Linked DNA regions of Homo sapiens. The protein of the gene in region 1 interacts with the protein of each later gene in a biochemical or structural test. Each region holds a gene or a part of one and is shown on either strand. Other genes may lie near its edges.

Region 1 (2,628 bases):
ACCAGCCTCAGCCTCCCAATGTGCTGGGATTACAGGCGTGAGCCACCGCGCCCAGCCTACTGCGATTTTTTTTTAATTGAGAAGGTACTCCTTGTTGAAATGGGGTATTAAAGTGTTACCCCAATAGCATTTACATATTTAGAATCATTTCTAGGAAAAACTTAGTACCAAGAATGTCCATTAACAAGTCATGAAATCATTCATCACTTACCACTTCAGTATACTAGTTTAAAATGAAATTTTAACCAAGTTTTTATGTGTGCCCAAAGCATCATCTTAACTTTTCCAGTTTTGGATTCCATTAAATCATGTCTACTTTAAAGGACAATTAGATGCAACAGATTTCATTATAAACCTCTTTTAAGTATGACAGCTTGGCTGGACTAAGCACAATTTCTCCTCTTTGAAAAACTCCTGCACTGTCAGAAAGTATTCAGTAATAAAGGTAATTATGCATGCTTATTCTCTCATATATATACATATATATATACACACACTTATTCGCTTTAAGAAAACTCAGCTGTATTTATAAAAATATACAAGTAAAAAATTCAAATATTCATATACATAGTTAAGCAGTTTAAATTTTATTGACCTCCCAGTTTTTAAAAAAAGTTAAATTTAAGGTCACACCTCTAAGTTTGATGTACTATATACAGATCGTGCAGAATATGAGTTAAACAGATACAAATTAGTCCATGCCCAAAAAGATATACTAGGGTACAGAATCATCTTCATAAATACATATAAAATTCTTGTGTAGAAGCGAACTGTCCAGGTTTTCTGAGACACTTCTAAGTGAATCAAGGCACAAAATGTACATACACCATTGTGAATACACACATTCTAGACTTTGTGCCTCTGACATAGCCCAAGGATTTAGCTTCATGACTCTTATAAAACTAAATGTACTGAATGAGATTCTGCTTCTTGGGTGAAAAACCACAGGAACTATAAACATCATGTAGATAATTACTCCAAAATATGGAGAATACAAATACGAGCACTTTATTTTAAAAAGCAAACACAAAAGACTGGTGTAAATCCAAGTGTTTAAATGCCTCCGTTTTGGATAATTTAATTAAGAACCGATACAAGTTTGTTCCCAGAAGCTAATGCATCACTAGTCTCTACTGAGGAAAATGAGTTCTAAAAATTAACATGGTTTTCAGTAATTCAAATTTCACTATTTATATAAAAACCTAGAGAGACCAATAATATCCAGTAGCTTCAAAAGATAAGCTAAAGATTCTTTGATGTAATCAACTTTACCAATGTTTGTATGGGTGTGTTTAATATATACACAAGGAAAATACACTCACTCTATAATTTCTTATAAAATAGCAAGTAAGGAGTAGAAGTAGGAGATGTAGAAGGGGAAAGAGAATTCAGAAAGTCCTTCTCTTCAGTAACTTTGACTTCAGAATCATCAAAAAGCAACCACTTCCCCTCATACTCCTTTAAGCTTTGCACTACGTATGAAATTTTGTTCTCAAATCCACTAATATTAATGCCTGTTTGGTCACTGGATTCCTTGTTTCTATCAGATTCATGGGTCCCAGTAGTATCACTAGTCTCAGAATTTCTATTTTCAGCAAACGCTGTACTAGCAACCTTATCAGGATTAGAGGCTTTGTTGTATAGCTCATAATCTGCTTTGCTCTTTTGTCCTCCAAGAAGTCCAATAGCTTCTACATTTTTTTTGTTCAAAACTTTACTTGGCTGTGTATTTCCACCAACTCTAATTGACACTTCTTCATCATTATAATTCTCAACCACACCCCTTGCTTCCTCCTCATTCAATGGTTCTGGCTTACCTATTTCACACATTTGGTCAACCACAAAATTTCCTTTATCTAGTTCTAAACTGTTAAGGTCAGTGACTTTAACAGAAGCAGTGTAATGCCCACTACTAATTGTAATGCCACTATGCATCACAACCGCAAATAATCCATAGCTGTCGTTAGTTGGCTTTGTGCTCCATTCTTCTAGTGACAATTTAAGAGGTGTCAATAAAGGAGTGTTGATCTTGGAAAGTCCACCACCATAACAATCAAACCTTTGGGAGGAAAAAAAGAAAAGGTTTCCTGCAGTTCTATTTTAAATTCAAAATGTTATACCCCAATCTGAAACCAAGTAAAAATCTGAATGAACCCTTAATATCCAGTGTTCATATATCAGAAAAGCAGAATCAAAACAAGACCCCAACTTTGAATAATATTTATAATATATGCAGAAACAAAAAAATAAATAACTGCTAATATTCAGGCATTTCTGTGGAAGAAATAATTGTATTTTTTCCTTTATTTTCCTAATTTTGTGCAGTTAAGAAAATAAATGGTATTTTAAATAGACTGAACCGGAACCAAAAATGTTACGTTTTGGGTTTTTTTTTTTTTAAGGCAGGGTCTGTCACCCAGGCTGACTGCAGTGGTGCAATCATGGCTCCTTCTGGACTCAAGTGATCCTCCCACCTCAGGCTCCTCCTCCTCAGCCTCCTGAGTAGTTGGGACCACAAGTGCCCGCCACCACGCCAAACTAGTTTGTGTATTTTTTGTAGAGATAGGGTTTTGTCATGTTGCCCAGGCTGGTCTTGAACTCCTGGGTGCAAGCCATCCATCTCAGCCT
Region 2 (2,750 bases), on another chromosome or scaffold:
TGTTTTTAAGTCTTTCTTCACAACTTCAGGGCTTTTTCACTTTCTTGGTTGGATCCAACATCCGTGGAATTTAAGACATCTTCATCCTTTGAGTGAAGTTGCAAAGTGTACTTATACTAGAGAAATTTTGTACAACCATACTCCTTGGGCCCCATTACAGCTCTACTGAAACATCCAAGACTCTTGTAAGATTCCCCAGGCTAAAAAGAAACACTCCATTAACATCTTATAAAGCCCACACGACTTTCGGTACATTAAGCTTCTGAAGAGTATTAATTTTTGCCAAGTAAAATGAAATACACAGGATTTGTACTACTCTCTCACTTGTTCCTTGAGCTCAAATTGGAATAACAAGTTTGACAAGTGAATCCCCTAAAATATCTAGTAACCTACTGTATTTGAAATCCTTTTGATCTCCATCAGGCTGCTCTAAACTGAAAAACCATTTAAACGAAAGGGTAGCTGTAGCTGGGAATTCAGTAGGATACTTCCAACAGTCCTGGTCAAAATGAAGACACTGCCCTGTGATGTTTGAAATTCAAGTAACTTTATTTAAATTCAAAAACAATTCTTAAAACTGCATTTAGAGTCAAGACCCTTTTGTATTATAAAAATCACAAGTATTTCTAAGAGACAAAAATACTTCTAGGTTAACTAGACCAGATCTGACTTTGGACTTTATTCTTTAAACAAATTGCAGAGAATAGAGAAAAAAATAGGTTATTTACAGAAAACAATATCTACATATGTACTTAGAGGTACAAATTTGGTGACAGAAAAGACTTCAGTATATGCTGGCATCTTAGAAGCAGTTCTCAAAGAGCTTAGTTTTATTTTCTTGAATTTTAAGAATGCCTAAGATCCTTCTTCATCCTCGATCTTGGGAGCCAAGTAGTATTTTAAGTGTCCCATATCCGCAATTTTATACTCTACAACTGAAAGACAGGAAGATGGTTAATTACTGAGGAGTATGTATCACATATGACTACCTACAAAACAAGGTTCAAATTTATTATCTTACCAAGGGGTACATCTGCAGACATACTGAGTGTCACCGTTGAAGAGAGTGGAGTGGCTTTTGTAAAGAAGTTCAGGTACCTCAGTGCAAAAGTTAGTTGAACTGGTTCATTCATCTCTATGGTAACCTACAAAACAAAAGATTCATCATTGAAAAACATCAAGAAAGTTGCAATCTATTAGCTCATTATATATTTATAAAAACCCACAAACACTTGTATTGGTCACTTTGGAGGGAGCTATGAAAATTTTGAAGACTGATACATAAAGCAAAAGACTCGATTATCTAGCTTGTCTTTCCTATAGCTATAATTTAGATAACCAAATTATATAATATGGGAAAGCTTTTCTTTATGGAAGTTTTTCTAATAAGCAGCCAATAAGTGAATAAAACGTATTAATTTCAGCTCTGCAAACTCTAATTAATGACTTAATGGATCTAGACAATGACTATTATAGCTGCTAACATTGCAAACACATCCAGACACCCTGTGCCTCCTACTAGAGGCACACACCACCACCTATATTCTTGCTCTCTCACCCCCGAAACAAAACACCCTGAATATCAAGGCTCCAGGGCTATAGCTACCAGTCTGTAGGACACACAGGGTAGAGGAATTTATGTATACACAGGAATGCAATCAGCAAAATCCAAACTCTGGAAAACTTAATAAATGATCTAATTTCTTCAACAAATAGATTGTAATGGAAGGGGGAAAATGAAATTAGGGGAAACCAGGCTAGGTGTGTTGGCACACACCTGTAGTCCCGGCTACTTGGGAAACTGAGGCAGGAGGATCACTTAAGCCCTGGAGTTTGAGGCTGTAGTGAACCGACTGCACCACCGCACTCCAGCCTGGGTGGACAGAGCAAGACCCTGTCTCAAAAACAAAGAAAAACAGAAAAAGAAAAAAACGAGGTTGGCAGGAGTGGAAATGTGATTCAGGAAACAGATAAAGAATCAGCTCCTAGACTTTATTAATTTAAAAAAAAACCTTTCAACTGAATTTTACCTTTATTTAAACTAAATGTTGACTACCCATTCAAGGGACAAGAGAGCAATATATAGTATTTATTGTAAGCTTATAATATGCCACACACAGCATATGCTAAGCTCTTTAATGCTACCGTATTTAATCCTAACAAGGTTATGAGGTTAGGACCTTTGTCCTTGATTTACAAAGTTTTAATTTATGCCCAGGTTAGCGAGTTTTTTTTGTTTGTTTAAGATGGAATCTTGCTCTGTCACCCAGGCTGGAGGGGAGTGGCATGATCTGGGCTCACTGCAACCTCCGCCTCCTCGGTTCAAGTCATTCTCCCATCTCAGCATTCCAAGTAGCTGGGATTACAGGTGTGCGCCACCACACCCGGCTAATTTTTATATTTTTAGTAGAGATGGGGTTTTGCCATGTTCTTTCTATTTTGGTTAAACAAGGGCTCTCTAGGTACTCTCAAAGTTGCATGGAGTCTGCTTTCTAGCCTTAGTGAGAAGTCTCCTTCCTGTTTAACCTTTGATTCCTACAGCCTGTGACTTTGGCTAAATTGTCACTTAAGGTTGCTCAGCCTGCTTCTCCACCTTTAAAATGGGCTACCAATTGGACCCACAACATGTAAGCTAATATTAGGATTACATAAGTGCTCCAAACAGGTAGACTTTTACTCCTAACCATATCCTTCTATTGAGCTGCTGTCCTATGCTCAATTATTTGGTAAGAGAGTAAGTATCTCCAGAA

What was found. Proteins that work in one complex are often made in the same cells at the same time.
Region 2: of the proteins of USP1 (region 1) and PCNA, one has a biochemical effect on the other in vitro, tested with the Homo sapiens proteins (6 studies listed by BioGRID, with this or other methods).

Annotation. Positions count from the first base shown.
Region 1 is NC_000001.11:62,449,677-62,452,304, reverse strand, and holds the end of USP1 (ubiquitin carboxyl-terminal hydrolase 1), read right to left. Parts: intron 2,060-2,628; coding exon 1,324-2,059; 3' UTR 501-1,323; downstream 1-500. UniProt on the Homo sapiens protein: Negative regulator of DNA damage repair which specifically deubiquitinates monoubiquitinated FANCD2. Also involved in PCNA-mediated translesion synthesis (TLS) by deubiquitinating monoubiquitinated PCNA.
Region 2 is NC_000020.11:5,114,428-5,117,177, forward strand, and holds the end of PCNA (proliferating cell nuclear antigen), read right to left. Parts: intron 1,146-2,750; coding exon 1,022-1,145; intron 936-1,021; coding exon 856-935; 3' UTR 526-855; downstream 1-525. UniProt on the Homo sapiens protein: Auxiliary protein of DNA polymerase delta and epsilon, is involved in the control of eukaryotic DNA replication by increasing the polymerase's processibility during elongation of the leading strand.